7 linked regions of the Homo sapiens genome follow. The protein of the gene in region 1 purifies or fractionates together with the protein of each later gene. This does not show direct contact. Each region holds a gene or a part of one and is shown in the gene's direction. Other genes may lie near its edges.

Region 1 (4,066 bases):
AACTGATTATTGAGTTATGGGCCTTTACCCAGTAGTTTAAACTAAATATCTTTGGTTTTTCCCTATACACTTACAGCAAACTTAGTGCTACATCAGACTGTGGAGCGTATTCATGTGGGCAAAAAATACGGTGATATTCCTCGAGGGATTTTTGTGGTCAGAGGAGAAAATGTGGTCCTACTAGGAGAAATAGTAAGTGAAAACTATTAAGCTGCTGTAGATCTTCATATTCATGCTAGTTAGACTTCTTTTTTTGTCTTTTCAAAAGAGAATAAAAATATTCTCCACATTTATCTGGCTTCTCCTAGGCAACTACCAAATTAATTTAGGGAAGCTACAGAGAATACTTTGTTTCAGTGCCTTAACAAATGTGTTCATTAATATATTTGTTTAATAGCAGAAAATTGACAAAGCTTGATTTATATATGCTGGGGAAGGTGTGTCTTACATACGTTGGAATATTTTGCAGTCATTTAAACAATTGGTTACAAGTGGTTTTTCATGGCATAAAGCTAATGCACAGTATTTCAGGGAAGTACATATTGCCTGTACAGTACAATGTGATATCCATATTAGTAAAGGGGGAAAGGGAAAGAGTAGCTATAGGAAAAGCTTTTCCGTTACCTATCCCGAGAATGGAGTTCAGTCTTACTTGGATCCTTAGCTCACAGCCAGGGAGAGGGTATTTTGGTATCTGTGCCAGAAAGACCAGCTGGCAGGTGAAAGGTTAAATCAGATTTTCTGAGGTATTGTTGCTGTAGGTCTTCGTGTGTGCAGACATACACACACACACCCCTACTAGAAGTACTCAGATTTTTTTTTAAAGTATCTTATTTAAAACCTTTGATTTCATCTTGTTATTTCTGATTATTGGGTTTGCAAGGAAAATAAAAATCTCTTCAAGAGTAGTTGAAATTAAGGGTTGAGCCAGCACTGTCTTCTTTTTTCTTACCAAAAACTTTGGTGTTTGCTTAATTTTTAAAGTTTTTAATACTGTTTTCTAAATACCTAGCCATGTCTTAAATCAGTTTGCAGAAATCTTTAGAGTGGTTTGGTTTGTAGCCATTTTTAACAGCCATTTGAGAAAGCAAGGAGATAATTCTGCTAGGGTTGGGTTGGTTCAGAGACCTCATATTGGAAATAGCTAGAAATGACTAATCCAGACTATCAATACTGCCCAAGTGAAATATATGAAGTATATGAAATATATGAATATATGAAATATATGCTGTGAAATATATGAAATAGCTTTTTCTTACTTATAAAATATTTATAAGTAATACTTATAAAAATTTTTCTTATAAAATATTTTTGTAGTTTGTACTTTTAGTTCAGTGTATCATTTCTTGCATGTTTAAGCAGCAGAAATTGTTTTTTGTTTTTTGGGTTTTTTTTTTTTTTTGGGACAGAGTTTTGCTCCTGTTGCCCAGGCTGGAGTGCAATGGCATGATCTCAGCTCACTGCAACTTCCGCCTCCCAGGTTCAAGTGATTCTCCTGCCTCAGCCTCCCGAGTAGCTGGGATTACAGGTGCCCGCAACCAAGCCCAGCTAATTTTTGTATTTTTAGTAGAGACGGGGTTTCACTATGTTGGCCAGGCTGGTCTCGAACTCCTGACCTCAGGCGATCTACCCGCCTCGGCCTCCCAGTGTGCTGGGATTACAGGCATGAGCCACCGCGCCCAGCCAAGCAGCAGAAATTGTTATCTTCTTGTGTCGCATAAAGGCTGAAACAAGGCCAGGTGCGGTGCCTCACGCCTGTAATCCCAGCACTTCGGGAGGCTGAGGCGGGCGGATCACAAGGTCAGGAGATCGAGACCATCCTGGCTAACACAGTGAAACCCCATCCCTATTAAAATACAAAAAAGTTAGCCGGGTGTGGTGGCGGGCGCCTGTAGTCCCAGCTACTTGGGAGGCTGAGGTAGGAGAATGGCATGAACCCAGGAGGCGGAGCTTGCAGTGAGTCGAGATCGTGCCAGTGCACTCCAGCCTGGGCGACAGAGCAAGATTCCGTCTCAAAAAAAAAAAAAAGTCTGAAAGCACCTAGTACCATGGTACCCATGGGGAGACACTACATGACTGTAAAGTAGTCTGCCAGTATTTTTTTTCTTCCAGAGATGGGGTCTCACTATGTTGCCCAGGCTAGATTCAAACTCCTAGGCTTAGGCAATCCTCCTGTCTCAGCCTCCCAAGTAGCCGGGACTATAGGTACATGCCACTGTGCTTGATACTGCCAGTATATAGGGGAGCTGACCCATCTCTGCATGGTGGGGTTATAGATGATTTTTAAAAATACTTTTCTGAATTTAATTTTGAAGAGGCAACGTATCAGAGGAAAAAACTTAAGTTAAAATACTGGGGTGGGTGCAGTGGCTCACGTCTGTAATCCCAGTACTTTGGGAGGCCGAGGCAGGCAGATCGCTTAAGCTGCAAGAGACCAGCCTGGGCAACATGGCCAAACCCTGTCTTTACAAAAAAATACAAAAATTAGCCAGGGGTGATGGTGCACATCACCAGTCCCAGCTACTTGGGAGGCTGAGGTGGGAGATTCACCTGAGCTCAGGGAGGTCGAGGCTACAGTGAGCCATGATTGTACCACTGCACTCCAACCTGGGTAACAGAGCAAGACCCTTTCTCAAGAAAATATTCACAGATATGCTTCTGTTTTATAGTAGTAAACATAGCAGACATGCTTTTTATACTGGTTACATTGGCACAAAGTTACATCTAAGTAGATGTGTGTGTTTGTGCAGAGAAAGAGGTGAACGTGTTTGTTCTTGAAGTTTAATTGTTTCCTTGGATCCCTTTTGTGAGGAAAAGTTCCCTTTTTTAAAAAAATATGTTATGGTTTGGATGCTGCAGAAGTTTTACAGGGGTACCACTACAGAAACTTGGTTCCAGGAATGCCTGCATTGTTATGTGAATCAGCAATCAGGAGAAATTATGTACCAACCCCAGAGGAATTCATACATAGAAATCAGTTTCTGTAAACACTATATTGGTTAAGAAATCCCTGAATTCTGCCTCAAGGACGATGATGATGACACAGCATTAAGTAATAAGACTGTTGGGAAGAAGCAGCAACAGCAGCATGAATTGCTTAGCAAGTCACATACTGAAAAGCCCAAGAGGCAGTGCATTAGGCCGAGAACACTGTGCTCTCTTTAGCTGCTACTCATGGGTTGGGAGGGCAGGTGGTAATATATACTTTGCTGGGTGCTGTTAACTTTGGACCTAGAGCAGGGCTTGCTTATGTAATTTGTGTGGCTTTCATTGTAACTTCTGTGGTGAGAGTCCTCTCTGACTGATAATGCCACTGCCTGTGAGTTCTGAGACCTTGGCAGCATGTGGTAATAGTATGCAGGGCAGAGCATCTGGAGAAGTGTGTCAGTACCGTCCCAAACTTTTATCATTGAAAGTCATAGAGGAGGGTAAGAAACAGGAATACTTTGTATAGGCTTTCCATCTTACAAAAACACCAAATAATACCTGTACATTCATTTTAAGGACAATAAACTGAATCTATGGACAGTGAGATACTTTTTTAGCAAGGTTCTTCTGCATTATGACATTGGTTAGCAAATGTTTATAAGGGCCAGGCACAGTGGCTCACACTTTGGGAGGCCAAGGCAAGAGGATGCTTGAGGCCAGAAGTTTGAGACCAGCCTGGGCAACATAGCAAGACCCCATCTCTACAAAAAGAAAAAAGATTTAATGCCAGATGTGGTGGCACATGCCTGTAGTTCCAGCTACTTAGGAGGCTGAGGCAGGAGGATCACTTCAGCCCAAGAGTTTCAGATCATGGTGAGCTGTGATTGTGCCACTGCACTCCACCCTGGGCAACAGAGCAAGATCCTGTCTCTAAAAAAATGAAAAATGTGCTCACATTGGCAGCACATCTACTAAAATTGGAACAACACAGAGAAGATTAGCACGGCCCCTGCTTAAGGATGACACGCAAATTCATGAAGTCTTCTATATCTTTAAAAATAATTAATGAAAAATGTTTATAAAACATTCAAAAATAAAAATATTAAGCATACTATGCCACATTTAAGTGAAAAAACGA
Region 2 (4,066 bases), on another chromosome or scaffold:
ACTTGAAGAGGAGGAGAGCCCCCCACCTGGAAGTGCAAGGTGGGGGGCCTGTGGCTGTGTATAATTTCCTCCAAGTATGAATTGAAGTGGATCAGCCCCAATGGCCTCTATTTTCCCCATAACATAAGAGGTGAGGTTGACTGCTGAGAGTAGAGATGGGAGTTGTATGGAAGACTGGAGGAGGACAATGCCTATTTTTTAGAATCACTGATGAGGGATGTATGGGAAAGGCAGCTAAACAAGGACAAATTAAAGAACAGCTCAGCAGGCTGGTGATGGAGCAGTGTCAGTCATGGTCCCGACAAGAAGCAGATGGCACATTCAAGTGGTGTAACTGAGGAGCATGTCAGGAAGAGAATATTCACCAAGGTGTGAACAGGGTGAAGGGAAACTCATAAAGGCCAGTGAAGCACCCTGGAACTAGCAAGAGTGGGGAGCCTTTCCCACCCCCAGACCTCAGGGGCAAGAGGAGGGAGCAGATCCCAGATCCAGAGGGAATTGGGGTAATTTAGGAGAGGGCTGCCACACTGGAACTCATACAGCACAGATGCTGACATTATCTGAAGCCAGGCAGCCCTCTCTGTCTCCAGGTTCTGGTGACTGCTCCATCCTCTTGTCCCAGTCCCAGGGGATTCTGCTATTACTTGTGGTTTCACTATACTCTTTCTATACTTTTATAAATATAACTTTATTAGATTATCCAGTTTGAATACACCATCTATTTCCTGAAGGAAACCTGACATACATGGTTCTTTAAAAAGACTAATAAAATAGACAAACTCTAGAAAGAAGAACAAAGGAGGAGATGAATAATATTAGGAATAAAAAGGGAGACAAAGGGCCGGACGCAGTGGCTCACGCCTGTAATCCTAGCACTCTGGAGGCCGAGGCAGGTGGATCACTTGAAGCCAGGAGTTTGAGACCAGCCTGGCCAACATGGCAAAAGCCTATCTCTACTAAAAAAAAAAAAAAAAAAAAGAAAAAGAAAAAGAAAAAAAAAATTGGCCAGGCACGGTGGCTCACGCCTGTAATCCCAGCACTTTGGGAGGCCGAGGTAAGTGGATTAGCTGAGGTCAGGAGTTCAAGACCAGACTGGCCAACATGGTGAAACCCCTTCTATACTAAAAATACAAAAATTAGCCGGGCATGGCACACCCCTGTAATCCCAGCTATTCAGGAGGCTGAGGCAGGACAATTGCTTGATCCCAGGAGGCAGAGGTTGCAGTGAGCCGAGATGGTGCCACTGCACTCCAGCCTGGCTGACAGAGCAAGACTCTGTCTCAAAAAAAAAAAAAAATTAATTGGCCAGGCATGGTGGTGTGCACCTGTATTCTCAGCTACTCTGGAGGCTGAGGCAGGAGAATTGCTTGAACACAGGAGGTGGAGGTTGCAGTGAGTTGAGATCGTGCCAATGCACTCCAGCCTGAGTGACAGGCAAGACTCTGTCTCAAAATAAACAAGTAAATGAAAGGGGGCAGGAGAGACAAAGTACAGTTATAGCATGGATTTTTAAATACACTTATACTATGAACAACTTTATGCCAACAAATTTGAAAATTTATAAGTAATGGACAAATTCCTAGAAGATATATAACTTAAAACTCAAGAAGAAATTGAAAGCCAGACTAGATCTACTGCTATTAAAGAACCTGAAACAATGGATAAAAAATCTCCCCATAAAAGAGTGTTTTATGTAGCAAATGTAAATATTTCTAATGTCATTTTTTTTCTTTAAGAAAAAATTTTTAATAGAGATGGGGTCTCACTATGTTGTCCAGGCTTGTCTTGAACTCATGGGCTCAAGCTATCCTCCTGCCTCAGCTTCCCAAAGTGCTGGGATTACAGGTATGAGCCACTCTAATGTCTTTTTAAAATCTGACCCAACAATCCTGTGTACCTGTGTGTACTTCTTATTCTAGAAGAAGCTCTAACAGGCTGTGGGAAGCATCTGCTTTATTCACTGTTTACCCCAAGCCTAACATAGGCTTGGCTTGAACTTAACATAATGAAATGATGGCAGGAAAGTTAGAACATCTAGGGGATCAGTAGACATATGAGACTTCAGATAAGGGTAGGGGACCTTCATAAAAAACAGTAGGTCCCAAGTGAAACTCCAAACAGCCAGGGCAGGGCTGTGATCTTTAAGACTGAGCCCTAGTCCACCTGCTTTGGTACTAGTCAGTACCAGAAGTCCCTTCAGAATGAAAATCTTCATGCAACAAGTTTCTCCTTAAGATCTAGTCTCTACAACAACCTAATGAATCACCTCTGGAACACTGAAATTCACCATGTGGTCCTTTTGTTAATAGTGCTAAAGTACGTTATTAGGAAGTTCCTGAGAGAAACAGCTGAATAACATTACCAAAAAGGCCAGAACCCAGCTGGGTGTGGTGGCTTGTGCTTGTAATCCCAGCCCTTTGGGAGGCCAAGGCAGGTGGATTACTTGAGGTCAGGAGTTTGAGACAAGCCTGGCCAACATGGCGAAACCCTGTTTCTACTGAAAAAAAATATATATATATACAAAAATTAGCTGGGCATGGTGGTGGCCGCCTGTAATCCCAGCTACTCGGGAGGCTGAGGCAGGAGAATCTTGAACCCGGGAGGTGGAGGCTGCAGTGGGCCAAGATCATGCCACTGCACTCAAGCCTGGGTGACAGAGTAAGATGCTATCTCAAGATATATGAGAAGTTTTTCAGTAACTTTCAAGCTACTTATATTTGTTCCCCCACCCATATAGTTATGACCTGCAGTAAAACTTCTGAAACAAATATTTTCCTTTAAAGGCACCAAGAATCATGGTCTTATCACCATGACAAGAGGGTCCTAACTTTCATTTTTGATGTAGGGAAATTAACTTAGTTTTTATTCTTATTCAGAAGTTCTACAAAGTCATGTGGGTTTCAGCTGAACACAGGATGTGGGCACAGAACCCAGGGTTGCTTGAGGGTTAGATGAGACTTGGGAGGGTGTTGGGTTTTGCCTACCAGGAGCAGCTATGTTTTTGTTTTTGTTGTTGTTGATTTGTTTTTACTCCTGAGCTTCTGGACCAGTTTGCCATTAGAGCAGCCAAGAAGATGTAAGACTGTGTATCTCATGCAAAAGTGTTTTTACCATGAAGATCTGACTTCCAAATTCACAGGGGTCTCTCATCAGTCAGAGCTGAGTAGCTGACTTAAGCTCACATGACCCGGTGAAGGGCAAGCATCATCAGGTGGACTTGAGGGCTTCAAGTACGCTGCCCTGAAGCGCCAGGAATGTGGTTGCTAGGCATCCTCCCCAGGATCTACCCAGGACTTTCCTATCCAATTTTGTTGAAGCAAAACCTAGGGATTAAATTAAATGCAACCTCACAAACTACCAATGAAGGGTGTGGAAAACAGGGATCCTCTTTTTAACTATCTGCCCCCAAATATCAATCCCAATAAACTGTACTAAAAGCCATGGATGGCTAAAAATGCAGTTTATGTCTTTTCTCCATTCAAGCGTTTTTTTAATCATTAAACTATGTTCTCATATTTCCATCAGGCCCCAATGGATGGAGGATGCTAGCCCTTTAATGGGTGAGCAGGGGAGGAGCTGGGACTTTTAAAGCCAGGAGCGGCAAACAGGTCCTGGCCCAGGCTGCTATGAATAACTTAAACAGAAAGGACAGCAACAGTCAGGTGGTGGGTGTCGGCAGCAAGGCATCACCACACTCGGACGGTGACTGGTGATGTCGGTTGGGAAGTACTTCTCTTCCTGCTTCTAGCCTGTGCCTCATTTCTGTCCCTTTGTGGGACAGCTCCCTAGAGCCGAGCTGGGAGGGTGGGTGTTTATGGCAGTCTGAGACCCCAGGGTCTCTCTCCTCAAGACCATGGCCAAGAATTCTCTAACCATCTTGCTGGGAGGATTCCATGGCTGTTTTAGGGTGCCATGTCATCCTTACTGACTGAGGATGGTGCCTCTTGGCCTCTTTCTTGTCTCAGGTTTACCTTCCAGAGGCTGGCAATGCTGTTTCACTGGAGGACACGGCTAAGAAGGAAGTCCACCAGCCTGCCAAGATGAATTGCCTTGAAGGTATCAACAA
Region 3 (4,685 bases), on another chromosome or scaffold:
TGACCCTTTATAGAGATTCATTTAAATTAAAATTTATTTTTCTACATCAAAATGAGGAGATCATCATGACTAAGAAATTTTGGATTACTAAATTCTTAAAAAATTGTCCACTTTTAAAATTCTATTAAGGTACAATAAATCAAACATATACTATGTTTTCTTTATCATTTATAGAAATTTAAAGTATGATAACAGGTATTTCTTGTTGAGGTGATTAGCTTGTCTCTCATACATTGGTGTTTGGAGAATTGTTTACTGAAACATTTGAAATGGTAATCCACAAATTGTTTAACTTTTTTATTATACCATCTGAGAATATGTTTGCATATTTGTGAAAACAATTGGAAACTGTCTCAGTTATGTTCATTTTGAGAATTACTATGTTTTGGTGGACACATTTGCTGGAATTTTGTGCAGATATTTTTAAAATATTTAAGTTTATGTGGTTACTATGAGATATTATTAAATAAATAAAACATGTTCGGAGTAATGTGTATAATACAAACTCATTTTTTGTAACAACAAACAGAAAGAGTTACATGTTGGTAAGTATATGTGTCTTTGATTGGTTATGGAAAAAATTATTAGGCATTTATTCCATACTTTTAACATCTTTTAACCTCCACAGATTTAGAATTGTTTTTCTGGAAGAAATTGTTAATCTTCTCTTTTATACATTTCATGTTGTTTTCCTCATTTTAATGCCTTCGTATTATATTTCTAAATATAATTTTCTTTTATAAAACATGCAAATTTTATACGAAGAAAAACAGCATAAGTAAACTTAAAGACTATTTATATACAATGTGGTTCCATTTAAAAGATAGATAATGGATGCCATTAATTCATAGAATATATAATACATTTCTTTATGTTAATACAGAAACAAAGCCTGATAGAAATATAGTCAAAGAACAGGCAATTCATAGGAGACAAAAATATATGGCCAATAATAATAATAAATATAGTTGACTTTAATATTAGGTCATCATATTTGCCACAATCAAAAAAGTCTCCAGAATTCTCAGTTTTAGAAAGGATTTGGTTAAATATCTACTGTCTATAAAATTGTACGTTTCTAAAGTATTTTATCTCTATCGTAATTTTAATGTTTGTAAGTTTTGACTTGTGTTTTATTTGTAGAATATATGGAAATAATTCTACATATCAATAAATTGGCTTGCTTGTAGTAAAAATGTTGCAAGCATATTAAATATCTTTCAACAGAATTTGAACATCTTTCAACAGTTAAAATTATACTGTAACACGATGCAATATTTTGAAGCCATTGAAATATTGAGACTGATCTATTTTTATATTAAAAATTATTAAGACATTTATAAGTGAATAAAAACAAATTGCCGAAGTGTATGCTAGGATGATCTAATTTATATTATAAACTCCAAATCTAAATTATTATATTATTATAAATACTATATATGTGTACATTTAAATAGAAATAAAAAGGTCTAGACAGAATTGATAACTATGTTTTCTTCTGTAAATAGGAGAAAGACTGAGGAATGGTAAAAGTTTAGCAGTAAGAAGAATTATGTCTATGTTGTTTGAATTATATACAGTTAGATTGTATTCATGTATTTATTCATGTATTATTTGTGTAAATAAATAAATAAATATAAAATTTCCAAGGAATATAGGAGTTTGTCAAGGGGCTATGAGGGAACAATGAGGCTGATTGATTAGTTTTGGAAGCCTAATAAAACAAGAGTAATAGCGGTAGACATCCCTGTACTTTTTGGGGGAGAAATATGCCTAAGATAATAGAAACATCTGGTCCACCTAACAGATAAATTATTTTGCATTCAAATACATTAGATACCAAAAAGATGCAGGTTATTGACATTGTATGCCTTTGATTTAATATTTATTAAGCACTCATCTAATAATTTTGCATTCTCTTTAACTTGCTTAATAGGGAAATTGGGGTGTTTTCTGCTCAACAGACATATCTGACCTGTATGATAATGGAATTTCTCATTATAAGTCAATAAACTTTTGTTCTTTCTGTATCTTTCAGTCTTATGATGTAATCAGCGCGATTTCACTTCCTGAATTTCGATGAATTCTAAGACATGGGCAAGATCGGGTTGTAAGACCTCTGAGATTTAAGGCCATGCCCTGGATCATGGTGAACTTACCAAAGCAAACAATGCCTGTGAGATGGTCCTGCAGCAGCCAACCAGTGAACTCTTTTGGTGACATCCTGTTCTTGTTGTATAACTTTATATTCCTATAAATCCATTAAGGCCCCAATAAAGTTTGTCTCTAAGCGCTGTGTTAGATCTATATGACTACATCTAGTAAATTGTGAATTTTAAGTAAATATTTTATAAGAACTCCTATGTAAAGCATTACTAAAATTAGTGTTGAAATATGACCTTCTTCCTACATTTATTCATTTATTTATGTCTATTTATTCATTTATTTTAGTGAAAAATATAAGGAAAGTAGAGGAAGGTTAAATCCAAAAAAGAATTGTTTCCAGTACACTTTCTTTAATTTGCTGTCAGTTTTTGCATGGAATCTACATCTTTTTATGCTAATCCTCATCCTAGTATTTTACATCTTAACTATTTTTTTCTGACTGAAATGGTTGATGTGCTTGTTTTTTGTAATTTTCTACTTTCCTTCTAAAATGCTTAGTATTGAACAAATAGAATATCCTAATTAAAAACAGTAATAAATATTATGGTGAAAAAATACAAGTAAAATGGGAAAACATTAGATAGCAGCTTTCAATATTTCATATAGTTCATAAATGTTTCAGGAATTACAAGGTTATAGAAAAAAATTTATAGACTATAATAATTTCCAGGGATATAAAAAAATAAAGCTTCTACCTTTGAATTGTAATAATAAAAGATAAACAGACTTGAAAGCATATATTATATCTGAAAATGTCAGATAAACTTGGCTTATAAATTAAAATATAAAATAATAATACAATTTGTTCAAATAAGTAATTAAAGCTTACATTGTAAAATGAATATTTAGAGAGATTGTGAAACCTGAGTATTTTACCCAATCCTCTGAAATTAGTCCCTAGCATCAGAATTAAAGAATCTGAAAAATCACAAATGGAGGTATGGTGACATTTATGTATATTCTAGAGTTATGTTATGCACACTTAATAAATTATAGACAGTTATTTTAAAGATTGTATAATATTACTAATCACACATTAGAGTTTTAAAACTTCTGAGCCAGGCTGAACATCACAAACAGTAAACACAGACTTCTTTAAAAGGACATCTGGTGAAAGGCATTTTATGCATCAGAAGGCACAGTATTATAAAGATGACAACACTCTTCAAAATAATCAAACTATTCAATGCAACCCTTATCAAAATTAAGGTTGCCTACTTTGAAGAAATTTATAACCTGATTCTAAAGTTCATATGAAAATGTAATGGACCCAGAATAGCCAAAACAATCTTGAAGTATACAAAGTTTGAAGAGTCACATTTCCAAATTTTAAAACTTATTACAAAGCTACAATAAACAAGTCTATGTGGTACTGGCATAGGATATAAATATTGATCAATGAAATAGAATCCAAAGTCCAGACATAAGCCCTCACAAAAGTTAATTTGCAGCCAATTAACTTCTGAGAAGGAGGCAAGACAAAAGGGGAAATAACTATTTTCAATAAATGGTACTGGGACAACTTGGTATCTACATGCAAAAAAAAAACAAAAAAACAAAAAACTTCCACCCCTACCTCATGCAAAATACAAAAATTAACTCAAAATAGGCCAAAGACTCAAATATAAGGGTTACACTATAAAACTCTTGGGAGGAAATATAGAATAAATTTTTGTGACCTTGAATTAAGTATTAGATTTTTAATTCTTACACCAAAGCACAAGTTAATAAAGGAAAAAAAAGATAAACTGGACATAATTAAAATTGAAAAAAAATTTGCTTCAGTGAACACAGTCAAGAAATTTGAAAGACAGCCACAGTGCAAGATTATTTTTGCAAATAATATGTCTCATAAATGACTTGTATCTAAAATATATAAGACCAGGCATGGTGGCTCATCCTGTAATCCCAGCACTTTGGGAGGCTGAGGCAGGGGGATCACTTGAGGTCAGGAGTTTGACACCAGCCTGGCCAACATGATGAAACCCCATCTTTACTAAAAATACACACACAAAAAAAATTAGCAGGGTGTGGTGGTGTATGCCTGTAATCTTAGCTACTCAGGAGGCTGAGGTGGGAGGATAGCTTGAACCTGGGAGGCAGAGGTTGCAGTGAGCCAAAATTGCACCAATGCACACTCCAGCCTAAGCAACAGGGCAAGACGCCATCTCAAAAAATAAAACAAAATAATAAAATAAAATAAACAGTAATTACCGCTAAATAATAAAACAAACAATAAACCAATTTTATAACGAAAGGATCTGAATAGATTCTTCTGTAAAGAAGACATACAAATCACAAATTACACATGAGAAGATGCTCAACACTATTAGTCATCAGGGAAATGCAAATCAAAATCACAAAGAGACAGCAATTTATACCCAGTAGGATACTTATTATTATTATTATTTTAAATAGCAAAATAATAAATGTTAGAATGTGGGAAAACAGGAACATGCGGCATTGTTGCTGGTAATGATAAATGTGCAGCCACTGGGCAAACAATTTTGTGGTTCCTC
Region 4 (4,579 bases), on another chromosome or scaffold:
AAGTAAGGCACTAATGAGGGGCATTGCATATTAAGTAAAGCCCTAGGAAAGGCATTGAGATAGAGGTTCTGAGGACAAAGAGGGCTCTAAATCAACAATCTTAACCGAAAAATACACAAAAAACTTGCTGGGCGAGGTCGGGCCTATAATCCCAGCACTTTGGTACCTGAGGCCGGCAGATTGCTTGAGGCTAACAGTTCGAGACAAGCTTGGGCAACATAGCAAGACCCTGTCTTTACAAAACAAACAAACAAACGAAAAATACACAAAAGCAACACCAGAGGCCCATTTGCATGGCGTGTTTTTGTTTATTTGTTTGGCCTAATATGGTTTCGTTTTGTTTGGAAGAAGGGATTGTGCCCTCCAAGCCTTTGTCGTTTCACTCACCTCTCCCAACCTGGCCCTGTCCAGCCCCTCCCTGGAGGGCTGGGCATATGGATGCTGGAGGTCACAGGCTGCCCAGGCAGGTTGGTGACCTCGGAGGCAGAACCACGGCCTCGAGTCGGGCCTCTAACGGCGAAAAGACTGACGCGGTTGGACCGCGCCATTCCCGAAATGTTAAGGAGCTTAAACTCCGCATCGTCCTCCAAGATAAGTAGGAAAAGGGCAGTCAGAAAGAACGTCTTCCCCGTCCGCCGTCTTCCTGCGCGCCCTTCTAGGAACCCAGCGTCCATCCCACGGCCTGATTTACTAAGGGAGTCTTGTAGCATACGGGAGGGGGAAAAGTCATTGATTGCAATTACGGTAATTTGGTTAGTTACTCAAACGGTCGTTTACATATAACTTGCATGTTAATATACTTCTGGAAGTATGCATATGTCCATACTTCTTTAACAGGGCACCCACGGCCGCCTGCTCACCCTACTTATGCAGCAAATTTTACTTCTCTCTCGGCTTCTTTAGCCTCGCAAACGCTATCGCTTAGGTCCGCTTCTTAAATATTGGCCCCTCCTCCCACCCGTAAGCTCCTCCCTTCGCCCTCTCTCCCTCGAGAGCTTCCAAACATCTTTTCCCCGCCCCCTTTTCTATTTCTGAACAGGCATGTTCCAGGCAGCTCACCCGACTCCTTAGATTACTATGGAATCGGTAGGGTCCTGACCGCTGGGGAAGCAGGAAAGCGTATCCTGGGAAGAAAGGCTTGGCTTGGACTCCGGAGAAGAATACTACATCGAGACCTGCTGGGGAATTTTATTTTATTTTATTATTTTTTTGGTCTTGGTTGTACTGAGGGAGGAAGAAGAGGTTGTGTGGCCCGGTCGAACTTGTGGCAGCCTGAAGGCCCCCTCAGGCGGCGCCGCGGGCAGCCCCGCAGCCGGGGCCTGGTGCAGCCTCCGCGGCCGCTGTCAGGGAAGCGCAGGCGGCCAATGGAACCCGGGAGCGGTCGCTGCTGCTGAGGCGGCAGTGTCGGCAGTCCAACCGCGACTGCCCGCACCCCCTCCGCGGGGGTCCCCCAGAGGTAAGCTACTCCTCCTTCATGAGTCACCTTTGCCCTGTTGGGTGGGGGGGGGGGTCCCTCTCCCACCCTGTCCCGCACAGTCTTCCCCACCTGAGTTCGACTACGAAACTGCCCTCTTGGTGTCAGCTGCACCCCGGGTTCCTTCTCCACCCTTTCCTCTCAGGCCTGGGGTCCTCCTCCGCTTTTTGGCTTCCTCTTCTATTAGCTCCTCCCTCTGCCTCGGGGATTCCCCCCTCCCTCACTCATCCCTGTTGCCTACGTCTCGAATAATTCTTTTTTTTAAGTCATGAACCCTTTCCATATCAGACGACTCCCATAATGCCCATCCTTGTCCTTCCTCGTCGTCTCTGCCCCTGCCCCAAACCTTTTCCATGGACTCCACCTTTATCTCTTTTCCTAGTTTGCACTTTTCCTCCTATGTCCCTGTGCAACTCCAGCACTGGGTTCCCATTTCCCTGAGCTAAAGATTGCATCCCTGTCTTCCTGTGCTGCTTCTGATTCCATTACCTCACTGTCACCCACCTACCCAGCCAGCTCCTGGCTTCCAAGAATTGCCTGTTCCCTTCTCCTTAAGGGATCTCGGGCCCTTGTCATCAATCCAAAAGTACCATTTACATTCTTACTTTGAACCTAGTCCTCACTCTTCTCTGGGATGCATTATGATCCCTATAACTTTCTTTAGCTTCTCTTTCTCCCTCCTCAATCCCCCAACTTTCTAGAGGTTTCTGTCTGTAGGGGAGAGATTTGACAGTGCCCTTCCCATTCAGGATTTCCAACTTTGACACCTCCCTCGAGTTTCAGGGATTTCTCTGATCCTTGTGACATTTGTTCTGTTTTTCCCGTGGGCTTCATGTGTTCTCTGTTACACTCTTTATCTCCACATACCACTTATTTCAGGATCAACTAAACCTTGAACTAAGAAGAAAAATGTGTTGTGAGCAGGGGGAGCCTCAGCTGCCTCAGGCCGTTCAGGACAGAAGGGTGTTTCTGAAGGCCGGAGCAAGTTTTGAAGAAGTCCCTATCAGATTACACTTGGTTGACTACTCCGGAGCAGCCACTAAGAGGGATGAACAGGCCTGCGTGGAAATTGAATGAGATTGTGAGAAAACTTGTTTCAGATTATTTAATTTTAGGCTTTTGTTAAAGGAATCACAGAATAGAGTGCCTTCTCACCCCTGTCCAGATCCATGAGGAATCAGTTTATTCTTGTGGTTTACTAGAATAGTTTTGGTTGGTTCCATAAGAATTCAGGCCTGGAGTGGGGTAAGGGTATAACTGGAAAAAGGAACATGAGACAATGGAAAGAGCTTGTACATTCAGAATCGGGACTCCTGGGTTCAGCATGTGACTTCCTCACTTGACCTCTAGAGTGATCCTTTTGGAAAATGCCCACTCTCTGTAGGCATCAGTGCAGTAATAAGTTGGTAGCAGGATGTGGGTTGGGGGAAAAAATCAGATTTGGTTTATTTGTTTACAAAACATTTTGGGTTCCTCAGGCAAAAGGTATTTATTAGTAGTGGTTTAGTCATCCTGAGAATTTTCCTTCACCTTGGTCTTTCTGTCAGATGTTTCTAGTCCACAACCAGGGGTGTAAGTCATTTTGAAAGACAAGCTCCAGGCCTGCTTCCTTCATCTGCTTTGCTTTTTCCCCCAGTGCATTAAGTGGCTGATTTTCTGTCCTGTTCCTCACGTACTTGATCCATAACTCCAGATTCTATAGGTAGAAAGTATGTTTGTGGGAAAGCACTTTGAGGAAGCTGGCTGGAAAAGAGAACTTGGAGTGAACTGAGACTTAGGCAACTAGTTGCTGCCATGTCTCTCTCAGCCTGTGATAGCGAAAGGGCACGTGAGATTCCATTCATTTTCTGATTCTAGGTCTGTTTGGGAGTAGTTATGTCATCTTATCCCACTTCCTTTCTCTTCCTTGTCGTTAGTCATGGTGCAGTCTCCTCATAATTCCCCTTATTAGAAGCTTTCCTGCCAGGCGCGGTGGCTCACACCTGTAATCCCAGCATTTTGGGAGGCCGAGGCAGGCAGATCACCCGAGGTCAGGAGTTCAAGACCAGTCCGGCCAACATGGTGAAACCCCATCTCTACTAAAAATACAAAAAATTAGCCGGGCATGGTGGCGAGCTTCTGTAATCCCAGCTACTCCGGAGGCTGAAGCAGGAGAATTACTTGAACCCAGGAGGCGAAGGTTGCAGTGAGCCGAGATCACGCCACTGCACTCCAGCCTGGGTGACTGAGTGAAACTCTGTCTCAGGAAAAAAAAAAAAAAAAAAGCAGCTTTCCTCCTTGGAAGCATCCCCAACCAGAAATCATATTTCCTCTCATTTCCCTGCTTTCTTCTTAGAGTTGAGTCCACGCTCCATGAGAATGCTGAACACCATCCAAAGCAGCAAATTGAGATTCCTTGATTTGGGGAAGAGGTTTGGGAGGAACCCTTCAATAATTGGCATGGGACAAGAGGGGACCCAGTCCAAGTGTATTTGGGACTCGCAGTAGGGAGGAACAATTCAGAGAGAGGTGAGTGCACAGGCTGCTTTCTTTGCCATCTGTTTCAGTAGCGGCTCCCATAGCTGGCTTGGGCTGTCTGGCTGGAATCTGCTTATACCAGCTCCATGGCTCTGCACAGAGTTCTCAGCCTGAATCAATATTGACTTAACTACCATGAGACCACTGCCCTCCCTACCCTCGTGCTAGTAGCTTGAGAATGCCCTCTCCCCTAATGCCCACACTCTCTGGGCCCTTGTGTCAGCAGTTACCTGGATCCTGGTAGGGCTGGAGCTGGCTTGACTGCCTGGCCCTGAGTTTCTATAAGGAAAAAGGAGTACTCAATCTCTACCTTTACCATTGAGGTCAAAGGGGAGAGATGAGTTGAGACATCCTTAAAGAAAGGTTTGAGTTAGACATTAAGACATGAGGAGGAACTCCTCAACAGCAGAACAGGCAGTCAAAGATGATATGGAGTCTCTTTTGAGGAGCAACCTCTCTTTAAAAATTATTTTTGGGCTGGGCACCGTGGCTCATGCCCGTAATCCCAGCACTTCGGGAGGCTGAGGTGGGCGGATCACTTGAGGTCAAGAGTTGGAAACCAGCCTGGCATGTTCGAGACAACATGGT
Region 5 (4,066 bases), on another chromosome or scaffold:
ACATGTATATTGCTTTAAAAATAATATAGAATCAGGCCTGGTACGCTGGCTCACGCCTGAATTCCAGCACTTTGGGAGGCAGAGGCAGGCAGATCATTTGAGGTCAGGAATTCAAGACCAGGCTGGCCAACATGGCAAAACTCATCTCTACAAAAAAAATACAAAAATTAGCCAGGTGTGGTGGTGCATGCCTGTAACTCCAGCTACTTGGGAGGCTGAGGCAGGAGAATTTCTTGAACCCGGGTGGGGCGGAGGTTTCAGTGAGCCAAGATCGCGCCACTGCATTCCAGCCTGGGCGACAGAGCAAAAGAAAAGAAAAAAACAAAAGAATCGAAAAGTGCAAAATTACCAACAACAGAGCCCTGACCATTTCTTCCCCACCAAATCCTACTCTCCTGAGGCAACCACTTCCCTTCTTTTATCTCAATCCTCTGATCAGTCAGGAAAGGCATTGTCTATGTCAGAGACACAGCTTCATCCTGGGAATCTTCACACCTCCTCCCTGGGTGAAGCCATTATTCCATGACTCTTGGGATTGCCTTCTTCTTAATCTATTTCTGTTTCTAACTCATTTATTTATCTCACCCATTTATTTACCATCAAGTCATCTAGGTATAAACATCAAAATATTTTTGTTTTTTCCTTTTCTTCTTCTTTAATTTCTACTTTCGATGTTGCTATATTCACTTGCTTTTTTTCTCACTGGATATCAGGTCCTCTAACAACATCCCTGCCAAACTTCACAACTTTCTTGTTGCTATTATTATTTTTTTTTTCAGAAGAGCTTCTCAAGATGGTGGGCATAGGCGAATGGATCATGTACCCCTACCAGTGCTGAGATGTTAGGGGCCAAGAAAAAGCACAGGAAAGGCAGAGTTCTTGCAGCACTGGCTTTGGGTTTGCAGAGGGAGGGGTTCCCACAGTTTCTGGTACAGTCTGATTTCATTTTATTTCAGTACACCGTGTGTGTAGTTTCTTGGACAGGGTGACTGACCATCAGTGTCACCCTGTCTGTCTTCATCATTAAGCACTCTCAGGACCTGAATAGATCCCAGATTCAAATTCTTTTCATGGTTGGACATCCTATCACTTGACCCATTGATCCCTTGGGGAAAATCTCATGGTTCCAACCCTTCTGCCAACCACTGGCTTCTTTGCATGGAGTCATGAGAGCCTTCAGTCTTCCACACTTTAAATGTCTAAAAGTTCTGAGTTGGGGTGGGAGTTTCTGCCAAGTTCTTCCAAGGAATGTGACCCCATAGTTTCTTTAGGCTCTGCTGGTGCTGGGAAGGTTAGAGCCTTGTCTGTATCTCTAGAGTACACCACACTTCAGTAAAATCACATCAGGGTCTCCCTGAACTCCCTCACCACACACTGCCCTGGCCAAGGAGCCAAGGTGAGCCTGTGGGTCTCTAGGTGTGCCAGTCATCCAGATGGGGGCAAAGCTGCCAGTCCCACTGACTGTTTGAGTGATTCTCTTGGGAGGCTCCATCCTGGCGATAGGAGAGCATCCCCTGGCCCTTCTCCATGAGGAGGTCAAGAACTCACCTCTCACCACAAGTGATGCCTTTCCTACAAAGCATCCCACTCCCCTTTTCTCTTCCCTGTCTTCCTCTTATTCATGAGATACTACATACATTTATTTGTTTATCAAAAAATATTTGTTAGTTCCCATAAGAGGTCCGCACCATTCCTGCCACTGAGCACATAGTTCTCTGGCCTCAAGACAAAACAGGTTCCCTGGCCCCACAGAACTGGCATTTTGGTAGTGGAGATAATAAATAAATAAATAGATGGATAAATACATTTTCCAAAACCATGGAAGCATACATTTTATGAAGAAAATAGTTGAGCAAAATAAGGGGCTAGGACATGGGTGAGGGACTCTTGGAGATAGGCTGGCTGGGGAATACCTTATTGAGAAGTTGGCTTTTTTGCATATGCATGGAAGAAGCGAGGGAGTGGACCACTTGTTGACCTGGGGAAGGCTGTTCCTTCAGAGGAACAGGAAAAACTCCCTGCAGGCGAAGATAAGCTTGCAGGGCAAGAAAATCAGCAGAATCCAGTACATCCAGAGCAGGGAAGTCAGATGGGCAGGGATAGAAGGCAGCAGAAAGATAAAGAGGACCCAGATCATGTGGGCTTGGTGAGGGCTTTGGTTATTTGGGGCATAAAGCAAAGCTATTAGAGGGTTCTGTGCAAGAGAGTCATACGACTTTATTTACATCTTTGATTCTGGTCACTGCTAGGTGGACATCTGACTCTAGGGAGGTAAGAACAGAAGCAAGGAGACTATTGCAATGCTCCAGAAGATAGAGTCAATGGTGGATTTCCAAGAGCAGAACCACAAAGAGTGATTGGGAGTAGGACTGACCAATAATATTCGGTTTCAAGAGTAATGATTTTCTTTCATAGCCAACATTGAAGCCGCGTCTGACTCCTAATTCAGAGTTAGAAAGCCACAAGACCTCCAAGTTCTCTCCTCTCCTCTCCTGGACACATTATAGATTTTTCAGTATCCTCAACTGAATGCAAGACTGTGTTCCGGCTAGTGCAGTATGCAGGAGACTATGACCCAGGGGAGGCATGTCACATAATCATTAAGAATAGAGAGACTTGGCTTCTAACTTGGCTAGATTTCTTAGTAGCTGTATGACTTTGGGTACATTCTGTCATCCCTCAGAGCCGCTGTTTTCTTACATGAGAAATAAAATTAATGGCCCCTAAAGAGTTGTGTGTGGGACGGGTGCAGTGGCTCACGCCTGTAATCCTAGTACTTTGGGAGGCCGAGGCGGGTGGACTGCCTGAGCTCAGGAGTTTGAGACCAGCCTGGGCAACACAGTGAAACCCCTTCTCTACTGAAATATAAAATACAAAAAACTAGCCCAGTGTGGCAGTGGGTGCCTGTAGTTCCAGCTACTCGGGAGGCTGAGGCAGGAGAATCACTTGAACCTGAGAGGCGGAAGTTTCCATGAGCCGAGATCGTGCCACTGCACTCCAGCTTGGCGACAGAGCGAGAGCGAGACTCCATCTCCAAAAAAAAAGTAAATGTAGCGTGAAGATTAAAAGGTTACTCAGGTAAAGCTCTTACAACTTTAGCAGAAACAGAATAAGCTCTCAATATTTGTACCATATAAATGTGACATGGTGGGTGTGTAAAACTCCTGCAAGGAGTACTGTGATTGGCCTAACATCAGATGCAAACACAGCAATGGCTTCATGCAGTTTAGTGGGTCAAGAGAGCCACACCTCTGCCTCCAAGGGAGACACACCTCTGCCTCCAAGGAAGACCAGTAAAGGCACTCTCCTCAACTCAGCATCTGGCCTAATCCGCATTTCCTCATTGCTGTTTTCTGATGTTGCCTCTGCTCTTGTTAATCAGGAAGCACAGACCAGTCATGCTTGTGTTGCTCCACTGTCAGTCCTCCAGAGCCTCAAGAGATCTTTGGGCCATATCAGCTTTCTTTCCAAAATGAACACACCCAGGGGCAGGAAAGAATGCTCTTTCCTTGGTCATTAAGGGGCCTGGGAGTCCTGGACCAGCTTTTCATGCAGCTAGACCACTTACATGCAACTAGAGCCTTGACTTTGAAACGAGGGACAAAAGCATCTCTTGCTAAAGGTAACTTCTGCTGCTTAGAACCCAGGTATGGGGAACTTCTTTCATGTCTCTGTGTTTAGCCTCGAAGTGCCTCTGGGAGTCTTGTCAAAGGTACAGAGTACTGAAGGATCCAGGGCTGCTTACAAGGGTGCAGGTTGGTGATCTGCTTATCCACTGTGTAGGGACAACTATTGAATCACACATCAAGGATCCTGAGAGAAGGAGGGTTGTGAACAACTGGTTCTCATTGTGGAGTGTCTGTGATATTCTTGGGGACTGTTCTGGTGCCCTAACTAGAAAACCAGAGGCAGATGATCCCTAATAGTCAAAGCACCTTGTGGGGCCCTCAGTGGCCATGTGCATGATCCTTACAGATGTCTCTTTGGATGAGGAATGGAAGAAGATGGGCTCAGTGAGGCAGGTTAGCTACAAATTACTTAGGAGTGTTCAGCTTCAAGTCAGGAA
Region 6 (4,066 bases), on another chromosome or scaffold:
CACATTTTGGTGCCACTGCCTTGATTTCTGCTAAGGCTCTGACGGTTTTACCCACCATTGCCTTTTTTCTTTTCCAAATTCATTGAAGTGAAATTTGTATACCAAGAAATTAACCATTTCATTGGCATTTAGTATATTCATAATGTTGTGTGACCATCCCCTCTATCTTGTTCCAAAACATTTCCATCACTTCAAAGTAAAACACCTTAAACACTAAGCAGTTTCTCCTAATTTCCCTCTCCCCCCAGTGCCTGTCAACCACCAGTATGCATTATATCTATAGATTTTATCTATCCTGAATATCTCATGTAAATGGAATCATATATGACCTTTTTGTGACAGGGTATTATTACTCTGTTGCTCAGGCTAGAGTGCAGTGACTTTTTGTGTCTGGTTCTTTCCCTTAGCATAATATTTTCAAGGTTTGTCCATGTTGTAACATGTATCAGTACTTTATTCTTTTTGTTAATAGGCGAATAATATTCCACTGTATGTATGTAACACAATGTGCTTATTCATTCATTCACTTACTGATGAACATTTGGGCTGTTTTCATCTTTTGACCATTGTGAATAGTGCTGTTATGAATATGCACGTACATGTGCTTGTTTGAGTACCTGTTTTCAGTTTTTTTGGGTGTTTACCAAGGAGTGGGATTGCAGGGTCCTACCATTAGCTTTGCAACATCAGTTGCAAAGTGATGTTGCAAACATCAACACGGTGAAAAAGCAAATAACATCTTACTATGAAAATAGTTTTGATCTTGGGGACTCCCCCAGGGATTTGAAGACCATATTTTAAGATTCTCTGTCCTATAGATTCTAGAGTTGCTCATGTGAATATGTGATCTCTCATCATCCCTCGGTTTTCACTAGCACCACCTAATAATACAGGCTGGCTAGTCTCCAAAACTACATCTTCAAAGTCAGGCATGGTGGGATTATGTGCCTGTAATCCTAGCTATGTGGGAGATTGAGGTGGGAGAATCTCTTGAGCCCAGGAATTTGAGGCCAGCTTGGGCAACACAGCAAGACCCTATCTCTTAAAAAACAAAACTGCACTATTAGATGTGCTTTATAATCTGTAATGTATAGATGAGAAAATTAAAATTTAGGGAGTATAAATGTGACAGAACTGGGTACCAAATTCAGGTTTTCTTATTTCAAGGCTAATGTTCTTACTCTAATTTGAGAGGTCATTTCATTTATAAAGAGAAGTTATAATTGTGTTTAAACTGTTTAATGATGTCCTTGTTATTTATTCTTAGAGACATTTTAAATCCAAAGGATGTGATTAGTGTCCAGCTGGAAGACACTACCTCTTGCAAAACTTTTTGCAGCCTATCTTGTCTTTCATCATATGAAGAAAAAAGAAAACCATTTGTTACCATATGTACTAATAGCATTTTGACCAAGTGCAGCATGTGCCAGAAGACTGCTATTGTAAGTTCCAATTATAACCTTTACAGGGATTCTGATGATTCTGCTTAAATATCAGAGTTTTTACTGAATCTTTTTATTAAATCCTAGATTCAGTATGAAGTAAAATACCAAAATGTGAAACATAATCTTTGCAGTAATGCCTGCCTTTCAAAGTTTCACTCTGCTAACAACTTCATCATGAACTGCTGTGAGAACTGTGGCACTTACTGTTACACCAGCTCTAGTCTGTCCCACATACTTCAGATGGAAGGACAGTCTCATTACTTTAATAGTTCAAAGAGTATTACAGCATATAAGCAGGTATGAATAAAGACCTATTGTTTCTTCTATTAACTGGCCTATGAATGGTTTCACTCTAGGAAAATGTGGGAAGTAGTTTTTGGTACCCTTTGGAATAATGTCGATAAGTTGATGAAGATGAAATAGAAGGCTTTTAACGGTTTCTTCTTGCATAAGAATTCATGATAAATGCTATATGGAGATTTTCCTAAATAATCTCAGATCGATTATCTCACCTTAAAGAAAAGGCAGGCAGGCTGGAGCCGGTTTATAAACTAGAAATAAGTATAGCAAAAATAACAATAGTCTGCTGGTCAATAAAACCCAAACACAAAAGTATTTTTGTTTTTATTTTTATGTATTTATTTTATTTCTTTCTTTTTTTTTTTTTTTTTTTTTTTGGTGAGATGGAGTCTTCCTCTGTCACCCAGGCTGGAGTGCGGTGGCGCGATCTCGGCTCACTGCAAGTTCTGCCTCGCGGGTTCATGCCATTCTCCTGCCTCGGCCTCCCAAGTAGCTGGGACTACAAGCACCCGCCACCACCACGCCTGGCTAATTTTTTGTATTTTAAGTAGAGATGGGGTTTCACTGTGTTAGCCAGGATGGTCTCAATCTCCTGACCTCGTGATCCACCTGCCTTGGCCTCCCAAAGTGCTGGGATTACAGGCATGAACCACCACACCTGACCTTATTTATTTTTTTTGAGACGGAGTCTCGCTGTCTTGCCCAGGCTGGAGTGCAGTGGCACAATCTTGGCTCACTGCAACCTCCGCCTCCCAGGTTCAAGCAATTCTCCTGCCTCAGCCTCCCAAGGAACTGGGATTACAGGCGTAAGCCACTGTGCCCAGCTATTTATTTTTTTTATTTATTTTGATTTTTTTGAGACGAGGTCTTTGTCAGCCAGCTTGGAGTGCAGTGGCAATCATGGCTCACTGTAGCCTTGACCTCCTTAGCTCAAGTGATCCTCCCACCTCAGCGTCCCGAGTAGCTGGAACTACAGGCACACACCACCACACCTGGCTAATTTTTAATTTTTTTGTAGAGACAAGCTCTTACTATGTTGCCCAAGCTTGTCTTACAACTCCTGAACTCAGCTGATCCTCCTGCCTTGGTCTCCTAAGGTGCTGGGATTACAGATGTGAGCCTAGCCATGTTTTTGTTTTTAATTCCACGTGTTTAACTCTTACACCAAACAATGCAAAGATGAATCAAGAATGTCACATGTGGACAGTCATGGTGGCTTACACCTGTTATCTCAGCACTTTGGGAGACCAAGGCGGGAGGTTCAGTTGAGCCAGGAGTTCAGAACCAGCCTGAGCAACATAGCAAGAACCTGTCTTTAAAAAAACAAACAAAAAATATCACATGCTTTCTCTGAGTCAGTCATAGGAGGAAATAATCCAGTGAGATTAGTATTATTTGTCCCTATTTCTGATAGACAAGCTCTGGGTGGGTGCTTCTGAGAGCAGAGAAAGAGCAAATGAGATGAGGTGGGACTTCTTAGATATGTTGCTTGTTCATATCATATTTTGAGACCCAACTCTATCCCTATACAGACTTCCTTAAAAACAAGCAGTTGGCCGGGTGCAGTGGCTGATGCCTATAATCCCAGCACTTTGGGAGGCCGAGGCTGGCCGATCACCTGAGGTCAGGAGTTGGAGACCAGCCTGGCCAACATGGCGAAAACCCGCCTCTACTAAGAATACCAAAATTAGCTGGGCATGGTGGCAGGCGCCTATAATCCCAACTACTTGGGAGGCTGAGGCAGGAAAATCTCTTGAACCCGGGAGGTGGAGGTTGCAGTGAGCCGAGATGGCACCATTGCACTCCAGCCTAGGCGACAGAGTGAGACTCCGTCTCAAAAAAAAAAAAAAAAAAAAAAAGCAGTTGAAGATGGGAGTCAAAACAAGCCATAATTCAAATAGATCATTTGTGACTCACATCTTTTCTATGGCCCCCATCTTGAGAGTATCCTGCCTTGGGACCAGAACGGAAAGCACAGAAGACTTCTCCCAAAGGCAGGAAATAATATTCCTTTTTTTTTCTTTCTTTCTTTTTGACACTCAATAGGCCTTGTTCTGGGTTGTTTTTTGTTGTTGTTGTTGTTGTTGTTTGTTTTTTGAGACGGAGTCTCGCTCTGTCGCCCAGGCTGGAGTGCAGTGGCGCAATCTCAGCTCACTGCAAGCTCCGCCTCGCGGGTTCACGCCATTCTCGTATCTCAGCCTCGCGAGCAGCTGGGACTACAGGTGCCCACCACCACGTCTGGCTAATTTTTTGTATTTTTAGTAGAGACAGGGTTTCACCGTGTTAGCCAGGATGGTCTCAATCTCCTGACCTCGTGATCC
Region 7 (4,066 bases), on another chromosome or scaffold:
ATGAATGTATGATAATTAGCAGGTACACAAATTAGTACAACTAAAATTGGGTCACAATTTTATGATAGTCTTTAAAGCATTTGAAGTAGAAATTTGGGATTGTTAGAAGTCATAGCTTTAACATAAAATAGAAGGAGCAAAGTATGTACAGCTACAACCTTTAGTTAGAAGAGGGAAAGAAATTAGGAAAATCAAGGGAGAAGAGCACAGAAGAGACAGTAATTTGAAGGTGACTAAGTGATTACTTTTACCCAGGTTTGAATGGGGAAAGAATTTAGAAGAATTAAAAATTGATTAGAAGAGTCGGAAGAATTCAAGTTAAGAAGTTAATAATCTTTAAATATTTTTAATGTAAGAGATTACTTTTCCCCCTTGTGTTTGGCATCTGGTTCAGAGATCAGGTAAATAATCCAGACCAGTTTTAGTCTCAGGACCAAGTTCATTCTTAAAAGTTTTGAGTTCCTAGTGCCTGGAAAAGGGAATAAAGTTGTTGTGATGTTCAGAATCAGTTAATCTAACTAGAAAAACTCCCTTTCCTGAAAGAACTGGTTAAGGGAGTTTTCTGTGATGCAGGAGACTGATTATAAATGTGTTAGAACATGCCAAACTGGAATGGGTAACAAGGCTTCTACTTTCACTAAATGTAATACAGATAGCTAAGTGAGAAGACTGTAGTGTGTGGAAGTGATTAATACTTTACTGTAATTAACAACTTCCTCTTCCCTTATAATAATACACTTGTTTTAAATATATATTCTTTCTACGGGTTCAATGTTGTTATATAGAACTTTTGCTTGAAATATGGTATATAGTAAGGTGATAATTTCAGTAAATAAATTTCTCCAGTCATATTAAATGTCTGGCTTGTGTAATGTGACATTGACAGAAACACTAAAAGCCAGGCTTAAAAATACTGTAAGTCAGATTTTTTTAAATGGGTGAAATCTTTATATGTATAAATAATTTTTGTCTTAAGCTGAAAGCTGGTTTGAGAATAAACTTTATTGAAAGTTATTACCAGTTTTACAGTTCAGCCCCTTGTTTCTCTCTAGGACCTAGCACGTGTCTTACACATTCAGATAATTCATTTGAATAAATTGGAAAGTTTTTTGTTTTCTTTTTAAGTAGAAGAGAAATTAGAATTCTTTAGGTTAAGTCTATTTGAGGGTAAGAAATGGGCTGTGATCTTTTGAAATATCTTCTAATACACAAGCTTTCAAATTTTGCAACCATAAGTACAATTTTATGACATTATTTCTTTCAGTCCCTAGAATAGTGTATGGGAAGCACTTACTATGTTGTTAATCTGGCTGGGCACAGTGGCTCATGCCTGTAATCCTAGCACTTTGGGAGACTGAGATGGGAGGGACGCTTAAGGCCAGGAGTTCAAGACCCAAGACCAGCCTGGTCTTCAAAAAATGTGTGTGTGTGTGTGTGTGTGTGTGTGTGTGTGTGAGTGATAATCTGCAAGTCCTGTATTAGGTTGAGCTATATGAAAATGCCAATAAACTTTGACTTGAAAAATCTATAGGAAGAACAGTTTCATGTGATTCAGTCTAGTTCCAACATTGATTTGGAAATCATACGATTGCTCTTTGCGCTGCTAACTGTTGATTTAAAGTAGAGTAAAAACGTTGTTTTGTGTTTATAAATTAAGTGGTTCCTTTATATACCATTCTGTTTAATATCAGAGTTCTGAACAAGTAGATCATTAGTAACTTACTTGATCAGTTAACAGGGAAGGGGACTTTAAGGGGAGAAGAGACTATAGTGATGTTTAACTTAAATTTATAAAGATTTTTTTGTTTGACAATTTTCAGATTAATACTTATTGGATTTTTTTTAAATTATACTTTTAAGTTCTAGTGGATATTAAGTGAAATATTGGAGTTGTGGTATAAATGGTTTCTTATATTTCTGTGGATAGCACATGAGAATGTGTAAGCATCATTCATCCAAGAGAATTTGTGTATTTGATCAGTTTGTGAAATGCAGTTTTATTTTGACTTACTGTAACCAACATTTGTTTGTATTCAGTGTCCTTTTCTACCTTTAAAGGATATCAGTCATCCGTTTGAATTACTTGTATATGCTTTCCTTCTGAAGTAACAGAGATTTCTTTGTTTTTAGTGCCACCATGGCAACTGCACCATACAACTACTCTTACATCTTTAAATATATTATTATTGGTAAGTTTATTTAACTTACACTCTTGTTCCCAAAAGAAGGTTAACATACAAAATATTTATATGTTAATACTTAAACAGTACCACTTCAGGACTGAGTGATTTTCTTACTGTAAAACTAAAACTCCTTTTATAAGATTTATTTTTGCATTAGCAATGCAGCTTTTGCATTGTGGCCATGGATATTTCTGTGGTACAGTGCTGGTGGGTACCTTGTGAAGTGATGTTCATTGTTCTTGAGGGCTGCTTGAAAGCTTTTTGATGCTAGGAAGTATCAGTGTTTCAAGGAGTGCAGAAACATTCCTAAAATACTGTGAAAGCTCTCAGATTCCCCTGGGTTTCTGTTATAAGGAAAAATTGGTAGAGAATATTGTTTGATTCCAAATCAATTGTGTAATATATATAAAATATAGTATTTTTCTTAATTGGTGTTTTTTTCCTTAAGTTTCAAGAAGGTTTTGCTCAAATTAAGTCTTAATGCTATTTATCCAAACATAAAACTACATTTGAAAGTACACGTTTTTCAATGAATTGTTCACATTAGAACAGTTTGCTTTCATGTTGAACTTAATGTGTCCTTTCTAATGTTTCCTTCATCAAGGGTTAACATTGCTATAGTACAGTCAGAGATGACATCTTTTCTCCTGGGGTTTTCATGTAATGCAAATTCTTTTCTTTCATAGAATAATACAAGAAGTATAAGACAGGGACCTAGTGAATCAAGCTTCCAGAACTCAGTTTGTTATTTCTGCTTGTTACATGCTACCCCATTTGTCAGTTTTTGAAATTTGTTGCTTTTATGCATGAGTTTAAGGAAAAAAACAAAAGAAAACAAAAACATAAAATTTTGAAACAGCTCAAAGTAAAAAAAATTCCATTAAAAAAATAAGCACTTCCCAGCTGGTGGCTATTTATTAACAGTAATAATTTACAGCCAAATTCTGTCACTGCTAAAGATTGGGAATAATATTCCATTTGTGTCTCACAGTGAAAACTTTTGAATCATTATAAAGTAGGAAAATAAAAATTTGTTAAGTGTCCCAGAAACTTGTGATATGTTATATGGTAAGGAATATAGCGATCATTGCATAAAATTGAGAAATGTAATTGCCACCTGAAACTTCTTTTTTTTTAAACAGGGGACATGGGAGTAGGAAAATCTTGCTTGCTTCATCAATTTACAGAAAAAAAATGTAAGTTCAATACATGAGGTAAACATTAATAGTTTTCTTTATCGCCATGTTTCTACTTTTTAGAAAGTGTCATTTTCAGTATACTTCATGCATTTAAATATAACCTTTCCCTATATTTGTACTTTTTTTAAATGGGTACAGATAAAATGAAATATGCCAGCATATTTTAGGGTTGATTTTTATACACATTATATAATCTGATTTGCTTGTTTTGATTTCTTGATGTTAAAATAATTTTTAAAAATACATAAAATAATGTCAAACTTAATCTTTTTATTCTCTGACTTTCTGTTACAGGAATTGATTGTCTTATTAGGAGAAATTTGCTGCATGTATCATTTGTTAAATAACAGATTTGAAATACTTAAAATGGAATTCTTTCTACTCTTTCTTGGGTGATAGAAGGGACCAATGTGTTGTAACTGATATGCTAAATATAGTTGAAAGTGTTTCTGTATAGTTGAAATTATTTCTTTGACATTTTTGTGCTGCTTACCACAGAGGTTTGATGTAACATTTTATGAAGTGCCCAGAAGTCTGTGTCCTTGTACTGGAGAATGGTGGGTTTAGGTTTTAAGTGGCCTCATTATAAGGAAAGGACTAATAAATTTGTTAATTGGCTTAGACATATATAACTTGTCATTGTATAATAAGTAGTATATGTTAGCCAGGTGTGGTGGCTCATGC

The links.
Region 2: the proteins of LSM1 (region 1) and PATL2 purify together in Homo sapiens (co-immunoprecipitation; one large-scale study listed by IntAct). This does not show direct contact.
Region 3: the proteins of LSM1 (region 1) and NBDY purify together in Homo sapiens (co-immunoprecipitation; one study listed by IntAct). This does not show direct contact.
Region 4: the proteins of LSM1 (region 1) and PI4KB purify together in Homo sapiens (affinity purification with mass spectrometry; one large-scale study listed by BioGRID and IntAct). This does not show direct contact.
Region 5: the proteins of LSM1 (region 1) and IL36B purify together in Homo sapiens (affinity purification with mass spectrometry; one large-scale study listed by BioGRID and IntAct). This does not show direct contact.
Region 6: the proteins of LSM1 (region 1) and ZMYM1 purify together in Homo sapiens (affinity purification with mass spectrometry; one large-scale study listed by BioGRID and IntAct). This does not show direct contact.
Region 7: the proteins of LSM1 (region 1) and RAB14 purify together in Homo sapiens (affinity purification with mass spectrometry; one large-scale study listed by BioGRID and IntAct). This does not show direct contact.

The regions. Positions count from the first base shown.
Region 1 is NC_000008.11:38,165,928-38,169,993, reverse strand, and holds part of LSM1 (U6 snRNA-associated Sm-like protein LSm1), read left to right. Parts: intron 1-76; coding exon 77-192; intron 193-4,066. UniProt on the Homo sapiens protein: Plays a role in the degradation of histone mRNAs, the only eukaryotic mRNAs that are not polyadenylated. Probably also part of an LSm subunits-containing complex involved in the general process of mRNA degradation.
Region 2 is NC_000015.10:44,676,465-44,680,530, reverse strand, and holds part of PATL2 (protein PAT1 homolog 2), read left to right. Parts: intron 1-2,667; exon of another isoform or gene 2,668-3,626; coding exon of another isoform or gene 3,627-3,665; exon of another isoform or gene 3,666-3,804; intron 3,805-3,965; coding exon of another isoform or gene 3,966-4,040; coding exon 4,041-4,056; intron 4,057-4,066.
Region 3 is NC_000023.11:56,815,282-56,819,966, forward strand, and holds the end of NBDY (negative regulator of P-body association), read left to right. Parts: intron 1-2,038; 3' UTR 2,039-3,898; downstream 3,899-4,685. UniProt on the Homo sapiens protein: Promotes dispersal of P-body components and is likely to play a role in the mRNA decapping process.
Region 4 is NC_000001.11:151,324,148-151,328,726, reverse strand, and holds the start of PI4KB (phosphatidylinositol 4-kinase beta), read left to right. Parts: upstream 1-1,310; 5' UTR 1,311-1,456; intron 1,457-2,353; exon of another isoform or gene 2,354-2,547; coding exon of another isoform or gene 2,548-2,555; intron 2,556-3,809; exon of another isoform or gene 3,810-3,982; intron 3,983-4,579. UniProt on the Homo sapiens protein: Phosphorylates phosphatidylinositol (PI) in the first committed step in the production of the second messenger inositol-1,4,5,-trisphosphate (PIP). May regulate Golgi disintegration/reorganization during mitosis, possibly via its phosphorylation.
Region 5 is NC_000002.12:113,032,213-113,036,278, reverse strand, and holds part of IL36B (interleukin-36 beta), read left to right. Parts: intron 1-3,422; exon of another isoform or gene 3,423-3,622; intron 3,623-4,066. UniProt on the Homo sapiens protein: Cytokine that binds to and signals through the IL1RL2/IL-36R receptor which in turn activates NF-kappa-B and MAPK signaling pathways in target cells linked to a pro-inflammatory response.
Region 6 is NC_000001.11:35,103,028-35,107,093, forward strand, and holds part of ZMYM1 (zinc finger MYM-type protein 1), read left to right. Parts: intron 1-1,267; coding exon 1,268-1,442; intron 1,443-1,529; coding exon 1,530-1,742; intron 1,743-4,066.
Region 7 is NC_000009.12:121,191,484-121,195,549, reverse strand, and holds part of RAB14 (ras-related protein Rab-14), read left to right. Parts: intron 1-2,130; 5' UTR 2,131-2,137; coding exon 2,138-2,189; intron 2,190-3,325; coding exon 3,326-3,379; intron 3,380-4,066.